Regions from separate parts of the Homo sapiens genome. Here region 1 is linked to region 2. Evidence: fine-mapped expression QTL. A gene starts in region 2. The other region holds a variant in brackets. All regions are shown on one strand. Distances are between the middles of the regions.

Region 1 (5,370 bases), 50 kb after region 2:
CCTGTGTGGGAGTCACCCATCCTGGCACCTGATTAGAAACACAGACACCCAAGTCCCATTCCAAATATTCTGACTCAATTGACCTGAGATGCACCAAGGAAGTGTATTTTTTTATTTTTATTTTTTGAGCCTTGCTCTGTCGCCCAGGCTAGAGTGCAAGGGCGCAATCTCAGCTCACTGCAACCTCTACCTCATCGGTTTAAGTGATTCTCCTGCCTTAGCCTCCCAAGAGCTGGGATTATAAGTGTGCGGCTAATTTTGTATTTTTAGTAGAGACAGGGTTTCACCATGTTGGCCAGGCTGGTCTCAAACTCCTGACCTCGGGTGATCCACCCACCTTGGCCTCCCAAAGTGCTGGGATTACAGGTGCGTGCCACCACGCCCAGCCAGGAAGTGTATTTTTAACAAGGATCCCTGGGTATAGGCTGCCCTGGTCTCTTTATGGAAGGCACTGTACTTTCTTCCCTTCCCTTCCCTTTCTTCATTTTTCTTGATGACTCTACAGGGCCAAATTCTCTGGGCAGCTGTCTTTCTTCTGTCTTCTGCACTTGGGTAGCAGCATGAGCATCTGGGTGCTTTTTTTTTTTTTTTTTTTTTTTTTTTGAGACGGAGTCTCGCTCTGTTGCCCAGGCTGGAGTGCAGTGGCATGATCTCGGCTCACTGCAACCTCAGCCTCCCGGGTTCACGCAATTCTCCTGCCTCAGCCTTCTGAGTAGCTGGGATTACAGGCGCCCACCACCATGCTAATTTTTTATATTTTTAGTAGAGATGGGGTTTCACCATGTTAACCAGGATGGTCTCGATCTCCTGACCTCGTGATCTGCCCGCTTCGGCCTCCCAAAGTGCTAGGATTACAGGCGTGAGCCACCGCGCCTGGCTAAGTATTTCTCTCCACATAGCGAGATCTCCTTGTCTTTTCCCTGACCTACTTGCCTGGGACTTTGTCCCAGGCGGCATCCCCCTGGTCTGTCCACCTTCAGGCCTTGTGTCTCACCGCCTGTGCTGAATAAGATTGAAATAGAGCCTAAAAATAGTTTAATGGCCCCTGCATTGCAGCCTGCACTTCTCTGTTCTTGGCTGGAAGGCAGCCAAACTGACTCAGCACAAAAGCTCATCTCCAGAAGCCGGGACAAGATTTCAAAGAGGGCTTGTGAGGGCTGGGAAGAGGCTTTGCTTCTTAGACAGGGGATATCAGAGCCTGTCACCCTCCAGAAGAGATTTTCCCTTTCCAGAGAAGCAGACTGAACAAAAGAATCCCTTGGCTTTAAGGAGGATTTTAAAACAAGCGAGAAGCCCAGGTCAATCCCTCCCCTGTGAGCTACTTAGCCATTCATGCCAAGGGTGGGCAGATTAGGGGGAAAGGGACTGGCTTGGGAGGACCTAGAAGCTTCCTCCTCAGCTGGAATTGTCCACGGACTTTTGGCAGATTATACTCTGGGGCATATCGCAGACCGCAGCCCATCTGTCGCTCTCTTGTACCTGGGACTCAGCCTGTGTTCCTTGCTTTTTTTTTTTTCCCCTTTACAATTTTTTTAAAACATTTTTTTTTCTTTTGTAGAGACAAGGTCTTGCTATGTTGCCCAGGCTAGTCTTGAACTCCTGGCCTCAAGCAATCTTCCCACCTCGGCCTCCCAAAGTGCTAGGATTACAGGCGTGAACCCACCATGTCAGGCCTGTTCCTTGCCTTTTTAAAGCTGCCGTCCACATTCCTGATTTATTGGTATCTTCTAGTTTCTCCCTTATTTTCTTCCTAGCTTATCCCTTACTATTTTCTCTGCAAATAACTCCACAGACTCTTTTCATAAACTTAAGGGTGTTCTTGCTGATCACTCCGCAAAGCTAAGCAAAACTCTATCCCTAGGAAGGAGCAGGGCTGCCAGACTTCCAAAGGAACTTTGTCCCTGTCGGTGTAGCCGACTCTGTCCTTTCTATGGCGTTCAGCAGTGTCTCTGATGAGAATAGGCATTAAGCATCTATTTTGGGTCAGGCCCTGTGCTAATCACACTTTTACATTCACTGTCCTATTTAAATGAAACTTAGTGTATAAGTCTTTTGCCTCCTTGGTTAAATTTATCCCTAGGTATTTTATTATTTTTGATACTATTATAAATAGAATTATTTTCTTAATTTCTTTTTCTGATTGTTCATTGTTGGTGAGTAGACATACAATTGTTCTTTGTGTGTTGACTTTGTCCCCTGCTGCTTTACTGAATTCATTTATTAACTCTAGTAATTAAAAAAAACTTTTCTGCCAGTCTGGGCAATATAGTGAAGCCCTGTCTATACAAAAATAAGATTTAAAAATTAGCCAGGCATGGTGGCGCATAATTGTAGTCCCAGCTACTCAGAAGGCAAAGGCAGGAGGATCACATGAGCCCAGAAGTTGGAAGCTACAGTGAGCTATGATCACACAGGTGCACTCCAGTCTTGGGGACAAAGTGAGACCTTGGTCTCTAAATAAATAAATAAATAAAAGGGTTTACTGTGGATTATTTGGGATTTTCTATATATGTGATAATGTCATCTGCAAATAGAGATCGTTCTATTTCTTCCTTTCCAATTTGGATGCCTTTTCTTTTTCTTGCCTAATTTCTCTGGCTAGGACTGCCAGTACTGTGTTGAATACAACTGTGAAAGTGGGCATCTCTGTCTTGTTCCTGATCTTAGGGGAAAAGCTTTCAGCTTTTCACCATTGGTTTTGTGTTTTTTGTTTTAGATACAGGGTTTTGCTCTGTCACCCAGGCTGGAGTGCAGTGGTGCAATCAAAGCTCACTGCAGCCTTCAACTCCAGGGCTCAAGCAATTCTCCCACCTCAGCCTCCCATGTACCTGGAAATACAGGTGTGAGCCATCGTGCCCAGCTCCCCTTCATTCTTTAAGGCAAGGTAGTGTACTACATTAATTGATTTTCTTTCCTTTTTTTTTTTTTGAGACGGATTCTCGCTCTTTCACCCAGGCTGGACTCAGTGGCGCTATCTCGGCTCACTGCACGCTCCGCCTCCCGGGTTCACTCCATTCTCCTGCCTCAGCCTCCCGAGTAGCTGGGACTACAGACGCCCGCTACCATGCCCGGCTAATTTTTTGTATTTTCAATAGAGACAGTTTCACCGTGTTAGCCAGGATGGTCTCGATCTCCTGACCTCATGATCCACCTGCCTCAGCCTCCCAAAGTGCTGGGATTACAGGCGTGAGCCACTGCGCCCAGCC[G/A]ATTTTCTTTTCTTTTCTTTTCTTTTTTTTTTTTTGAGACAGAGTCTCACTCTGTCGCCCAAGCTGGAGTGCAGTGGTGCAGTCTTGGCTCACTGCAACCTCTGCCTCCCAGGTTCAAGCGATTCTCCTGCTTCAGCCTCCCGAGTAACTGGGACTAGAAGTACTCGCCCCACCATGCCTGGCTAATTTTTGCTTGCTATTTATTTATTTATTTTATTTATTTATTTTTTTTGAGATGAAGTCTCCCACTGTCGCCAGGCTGGATTGTGCAGTGGCACAAACTCAGCTCACTGCAACCTCCGTCTCCCGGGTTCAAGCGATTCTCCTGCCTCAGCCCCCCGAGTAGCTGGGATTACAGGCGCGTGCCACCACACCCAGCTAATTTTTGTATTTTTAGTAGAGATGGGGTTTCCCCATGTTGGCCAGGATGGTCTTGACCTTGTGATCCGCCCACCTTGGCCTCCCAAAGTGCTGGGATTACAGGCATGAGCCACTGCGCCCAGACTGAATTTTTTTTTTTTTTTTTTGAGACAGTTTCACTCTTGTTGTCCAGGCTAGAGTGTAATGGAGTGACCTTGGCTCACTGCAACCTCCGCCTCCTAGGTTCAAGCGATTCTTCTGCCTCAGCCTCCCAAGTAGTTGGGATTACAGGCACGTGCCACCATGCCTGGCTAATTTTTGTATTTTTAGTAGAGACGGGGTTTCACCGTGTTGGCCAGGCTGGTCTTGATCTCCTGACCTTGTGATCCACCTGCCTTGGCCTCCCGAAGTTCTGGGATTACAAGTGTGAGCCACCCCACTTGGCCAGATTTTCTCATTTTTCTTGAGTCAGTTTCAGTAGTTTTTATATTTCTAGGAATTTATGCATTTAATCTAAATTATTGAATTAGTGGACATACGGTTGTTCACAGTATTGCCTTATAATTCCTTTTATTTCTGTAAGGTTGGCATTAATGCCTTCTCTTTTATTCTTGATTTTAGTAATTTGAGTCTTTTCTTCTTTTATCTTAGTCAGTCTAGCTAAAGGTTTGTGAATTTTGTTGGTCTTTTTAGGACCTTTTTTTTTTTTTTTTTTTGAGACAGAGTTTCACTCTTGTCATCCAGGCTGGAGTGCAATCTTGGCTCACTGCAACCTCCGCCTCCCGGGTTCAAACAATTCTCCTGCCTCAGCCTCCCAAGTAGCTGGGATTACAGGCGCTCGCCACCATGCCTGGCTAATTTTTGTATTTTTAGTAGAGATGGAGTTTCACCATGTTGGCCAGGCTGGTCTCGAACTCCTGACCTCAGGTGATCCGCCCTCCTCAGCCTCCCAAAGTGCTGGGATTATAGGTGTGAGCCACTGCGTCCGGCCAAGACCTAACTTTTAATTTCATTGATTTTCTGTGTCATTTTTATATTCTCTATTTCATTAATTTCCACTCTAATCCTTCTTTGGGTTTACTTTGCTCTTCTTTTTTCAATGTCTTAAGGTAGAAATTTAGGTTATTGATTTGAGATCATTCTTCTTTTCCTTTATTTATTTATTTAGAGACAGGGTCTTGCTCTGTCACCCAGGCTGGAGTGCAGTGGTGTGATTGTAGCTCACTGCAGTCTTGAACTCCTGGGCTCTGGCAACCCTCCTGCCTTGGCCTCCCAAGTAGCTGGGACTACAGGTACACGCCACTGTGCCTGGTTAATTTTTTAATTTTTATTTTGTAGTGACGGGATCTCACTATGTTCCCCAAGCTGGTCAGGAACTCCTGGGCTCAAGTGATCCTCCAGCCTTGGCCTCCCAAAGTGCTGGGATTACAGGCGTCAGCCACTGTGCCTGGCCTCATTCTTCTTTTTAAATGTAGACATTTACAACTTTAAATTTCCCTCTAAGCATTGTTTTACTTGCATACCGTAAGTTTTCATATGTTATATCTTCATTTTCGTTCATCTAAAAATATTCTGATTTCCCCTCTGATTTCATCTTTGACCCATTGGTTATTTAGGAGTGTTTGTTTTTCACATATTTGTGACTTTCCCAGATTAGTTATTAACTTTTACTCTAGTGTGATCAGAGAACGTACTTTGTACGATTTCAATTCTTTTAAATTTATGGAAGCTATTTTTTTTTAATTGAGGCTTTTTTTTTTAAAGATGGAGTCTTGCTCTGTTGCTCAGGCTGGAGTGCAGTGGC
Region 2 (5,340 bases):
CATCTCAAGGCCACCAGTCCCCAGTTATCACCCTTGGAAATCCTCTGTTTAGCTTAGTTGCACAAAAGGTAGTATGTCCAGTGGCTAGAGGTGGGGTGGGAAGAGAGGAGGCCAGGCCAGGCCCTCAGGAATTCCCTGGTTTCCACTGGGCCACCCACTTGCTGGACAGTCTGAGCCAAGTCCCTCCTGCTGGAGAAAAGCCTGGAACTGCCAAAACAAAAAAACAAATACAAACAAACCTCGTCACCACGGTCAGGAGGAGGTTCAGACATTCTGCCCAGAGGGGCTGGGGAAAGGGATGGGAGCCAGGAAAGATTTAGGGGCAGGAGACAGACACGTAACAGGAACTCGGAAGGTAGAACTTAGAATTCAGAACTTGGGTTTCAATTGTAGAATTTGGAATCTGGAATACAGAATTGGGAAGAAGAACAGAGATGACAAAAGACCACTTGAAGAGAGGTTCCTAATACTAGACAGATGGAGAGTGGCTTGGCTGTTTCCCCCTGCATATTGGGGTTGAAAACTTAAATGTGTAGTTCCAGTCCTTCTATGCAGAGTCTCTCCTGCCCTCCCTCCTTCCTGCAGGCAAATATACAAGCTAGACCCTGTTCCCTCACCCTGTATCCTGTCTCCCCTAATTGACATTCTATCAGCCCAACCCTCATTCTGCAGGGCCACCTGGTGTGTGGAGGTGGCGGGAGGGGTCAGTGACTCTGGGGGTCTCCTCAGTGACCCCCATACCTCATCATGAACCCTTGGGTAGCTTGATTCTGCCTACCATCCAGGAAAACTTGTGCTGGAATTGCTGATGGAAACAATTAAATATTTACTATAAATCAGTGTCTTTTCTTCATCTGCAAGGAACTTTAGCAGGTGCCTGAGGCAGGGCACAGTAGAGCTGGTGGGCTTAGTCCCACATGGCAGATCTACCCTCCTGGAGGGTACTGTGTTCTTGAGCTATTCTCAACAGTCAGTACTGGTTGGGTGCAGTGGCTCACGCCTGTAATCCCAGCATTTTGGAAGTCCGAGGTGGGCAGATCACTTGAGTGAGGTCAGGAGTTCAAGACCAGCCTGGGCAACATGGTGAAACCCTGTCTCTACTAAAAATACAAAAATTAGCTGGGCATGGTGGTGCATGCCTGTAATCCCAGCTACTTAGGAGGCTGAGGCAGGAGAATCCTTTAAACCCTGGAGTCGGAGTTTGCAGTGAGCGGGGATTGCGCCACTGCACTTCAGCCTGGGTGAGAGAGCAAAACTCTGTCTCAAATAAAAATAAAAATAAAAAAGAGCCAGTATTTTCCTCCTTGCTCCTGGGAAGGAGAAGGAACTGGCCCCGTACAACCAGGGATTCAGGACACGTGTTACTAGCTCCAGATGAGGATTTACACGAAAAAATCCTGGGCCTTGTTTGTACAGTTCATGCCAGGGGTAGGAAATACCTGAAGCTTTCAAATACTGCGTTAGAGTTGTGACTCTGTCCTGGGCAAGTCAGGCCTAAAATGGAGAAACTGGTGATGCACTCCTCAAAAAGCCAAGTGTAAAATGAGGTTAATGCCCTCCCTGACTTGTTGCCTTCACTGGCGTGGCATATTATGGTAAAAATAATAATTAAGAAGTAAGGTTATGCAGGCAAATCCTCTAGCGCCGAAATCTTCCCCGCCGCGCTACCAGGTTCTTTCGTGTTATCTTGGACATAACACAACATTAATTCAACTACTCGGTGGAGCGCCCACTAGCTGCTGGACACTCTCTTAGGCCCTGGGCACAGTGAACGAGAAGCATGTGTCTTTGTTTTTACAGTCTCACCACGCCACCACCTCCCTCGGGGGCCTCCGCGCTGAGCTTCCGGCCTCTACGCCTCGCTTCCGGTCGGCCGCCCCTTCCTTACTTCCGGTTCTCTATGGTGCGCGGGCAAGCTTTGCTCCGCCTCCGGCAGTGGCTTACTCCCGGTGCCAGGTTCTTGGAGCTGTGAGGTGAGGAGGGGACAAGGGCAGTGGGGCTGGGAGATGGGGCGGGGCTGGGCGCTCCGGGACTGAGGTGCTGATCGCCCAAAGGGCGCCCCTGGGCTGGGGTCTGACCCGGCTTCTCCTCCCTCACTACCCGCGGTCCCCGGCCTCTCGGCGCTGCGCTGTTACCTCATCCGAAAAGTGTTCGCTGCAGCATCCTCAGGCTTCACGTTGGAGCCTCTTGATTGTGGTAATGTAGCCTGATGGGGGTGGGGGTGGTGGTGATGGTAACAGCTCACATATATCGTGCTCTTCGGTGTGCCAGGCACTCTACTGTGTTGCCAAAGTCAGGATTTCCCACACTTAAGCCTTTCAGGTCCGGTCTTTGTAGGCTTTGCCAGATCAACTTACCACCTCTACTACCGTTTATTAAAAATTTGTTTGTTTGTTTGTTTTAGTATTTATTGATAATTCTTGGGTGTTTCTCGCAGAGGGGATTTGGCAGGGTCATAGGACAATAGTGGAGGGAAGGTCAGCAGATAAACAAGTGAACAAAGGTCTCTGGTTTTCCTAGGCAGAGGACCCTGCAGCCTTCCGCAGTGTTTGTGTCCCTGGGTACTTGAGATTAGGGAGTGGTGATGACTCTTAAGGAGCATGCTGCCTTCAAGCTTCTGTTTAACAAAGCACATCTTGCCCCGCCCTTAATCCATTTAACCCTGAGTGGACACAGCACATGTTTCAGAGAGCACGGGGTTGGGGGTAAGGCTATAGACCAACAGCATCCCAAGGCAGAAGAATTTCTCTCAGTACAGAACAAAATGGAGTCTCCCTTGTCCACCTCTCTCCACACAGACACAGCAACAATCCGATTTCTCTATCTTTTCCCCACATTTCCCCCCTCTCTACTAGACAAAACCGCCATCGTCATCATGGCCCGTTCTCAATGAGCTGTTGGGTACACCTCCCAGACGGGGTGGCGGCCAGGCAGAGGGGCTCCTCACCTCCCAGAAGGGGCGGCCGGGCAGAGGCGCCCCCCACCTCCCGGACGGGGTGGCGGCCAGGCGGAGGCGCCCCCCTACCCCCGACCCGACGGGGCGGCTGGCCGGGCTGGGGCTGGCCCCCACCTCCCCCCCGGACGGGGCGGCTGGCCGGGCGGGGGCTGCCCCCCACCTCCCGGACGGGGCGGCTGCTGGGTGGAGGGGCTCCTCACCTCTCAGACGGGGCAGCCGGGCAGAGACGCTCCTCACCTCCCAGACGGGGTCGCAGCCGGGCAGAGGTGCTCCTCACATCCCAGACGGGGCGGCGGGGCAGAGGTGCTCCCCACATCTGAGATGATGGGCGGCCGGGCAGAGACACTCCTCACTTCCTAGACGGGATGGGGTCCGGGAAGAGGTGCTCCTCACTTCCCAGACTGGGCAGCCGGGCAGAGGGGCTCCTCACATCCCAGATGATGGGCAGCCGGGCAGAGACGCTCCTCACTTCCCAGACGGGGTGGCGGCCGGGCAGAGGCTGCAATCTTGGCACTTTGGGAGGCCAAGGCAGGCGGCTGGGAGGTGGAGGTTGTAGCGAGCCGAGATCACGCCACTGCACTCCAGCCTGGGCACCATTGAGCACTGAGTGAACGAGACTCCGTCTGCAATCCTGGCACCTCGGGAGGCCGAGGCTGGCCGATCACTCGCGGTCAGGAGCTGGAGACCAGCCTGGCCAACACAGCGAAACCCCGTCTCCACCAAAAAATACGAAAACCAGTCAGGCGTGGCGGCGCGCGCCTGCAATTGCAGGCACTCGGCAGGCTGAGGCAGGAGAATCAGGCAGAGAGGTTCCAGTGAGCCGAGATGGCCGCAGTACAGTCCAGCTTCGGCTCGGCATCAGAGGGAGACCGTGGAGAGAGGGGGAGGGGGGAGGGGGAGGGGTTTACTAAAAATTTTTAATCCAGTCCAAATTTTTTTTTTGCAACGGGATCTCTGTTGTCAAGACTGAGTGCAGTGGCGCGATCATAGCTCACTGCAGCCTGGAACTTCTGGGCTCAAGCCATCCTCCCACCCTAGCCTCCAGAGTAGCTTGGGACCACAGGTGTGCACCGCCATACTAGGCTAATTTTAAAATGTTTTCTAAAGATGGGGTCTCGCTCTGTTGCCCACTCTGGTCTTGAACGCCTGGGCTCAAGCGATTCTCTCACCTCTGCTTGCCTTGGTTTCCCAAAGTGTTGGGATTACAGGTGTGAGCCATGGTGTTGGGCCCAGTCACTTTTTTTGTTGTTGTTGAGACTGAATCTCGCTCTGTTGCCCAGGCTGGAGTGAAGTGGCTGCGATCTCGGCTCATTGCAACCTCTGCTCCCTGGGTTCAAGTGATTCTCCTACCTCAGCCTCCTGAGTAGCTGAGATTACAGGCGCCCGCCTCCACTCCCGGCTAATTTTTGTATTTGTGGTACTGACGGGGTTTCACCATGTTGGCCAGGCTGGTCTCAAACTCCTGACCTCAGGTGATCCACCCGCCTCAGCCTCCCAAAGTGCTGGGATTACAGGCCTGAGCCACTGCGCCCAGCCAAGTCACTTTTTAAACTCAAATTTACTTTGAGAGAAAACTTGAAATCTCTCCACCAGAAATGGAAAGCTGCTTTCACTTGTTTTATGTAGAAGGTAAAAATTAATATAGTTAATATAATGCAACTAGATCATTGTTAACAAACTCTGGCTAGATTTTGTTGTTTAAGGCTGTGGGATAGAGTTCTTTTGTTACAAAGGAACATTGGCATTCATAGATGTTAAAGACAAACTAGGGAACTGAGATGTTCTCCTTGAAGCAATCAGAAGTTTCAAAATAAGAATTGAAAAGGGATTAACTTTCTCCTTAGGTGTTCAGCATTATTTAAGATCACCTATGCATCATCTGAAGCCACAGTCCCAGGTCATCTTCATCACCTTCCCCAGTGGAATGCCTCCTGTGTTAAAGCCCACAACAACCCCTGTGGTAGGGACTGTTATTCTCATTTGATTTGTGAGGAATCAGACCCAGAGAAAAGTGAAGTGACTCGTCCGGGGACTCATAGCCATGAAAGAGTAGAATGGAGATTCCAGTTCAGGGCTCTCTGACTTTTACCGTGACAAACTATTGGCTCCCTCAAGTCGGGGATGTGGAAGCTTCAGTGAGTGATGATTGTGCCACTGCACTCCAGCTTGGGTGACAGAGCAAGAGGGATTAGGGTAAAGGGGACAGTGCTGCCCACCTCAGGAGGCTGTGGTGAGGCAACAAGGGAGGATGCTTTGTGACTGTAGAGCCCCATGAAATGTAGGTTCTATACTTTAAATTCTAGGATCAACCTGGGAGTCAATGGCATCACTAGATGAGAGGCTGGCAGGACTAGGAGGCATAAAAGTGTAGTTAAGAGCACCAG

What was found. PIP is the estimated chance that this variant, and not a neighbour inherited with it, causes the effect.
Region 1: its variant is the best candidate, but not a certain one, in a credible set for the expression of THOC5 in lung (TOPMed, PIP 0.86).

Annotation. Positions count from the first base shown.
Region 1 is chr22:29,499,893-29,505,262 of GRCh38, reverse strand. No RefSeq gene overlaps it. Among named protein-coding and RNA genes, the nearest start is that of NEFH, 22 kb to the right of the region's middle. The variant G/A (reference allele first, on the strand shown) is at 3,207.
Region 2 is chr22:29,550,304-29,555,643 of GRCh38, reverse strand. It overlaps THOC5 (THO complex subunit 5), which reads left to right and starts at 1,887. Exons shown (of 20, transcript NM_003678.5): 1 at 1,887-1,973. NIPSNAP1 (nipsnap homolog 1) reads left to right here. Exons shown (of 10, transcript NM_003634.4): 10 at 1-836. RefSeq lists enhancers at 1,517-1,586, 970-1,667, 3,065-3,764 and a silencer at 1,987-2,176.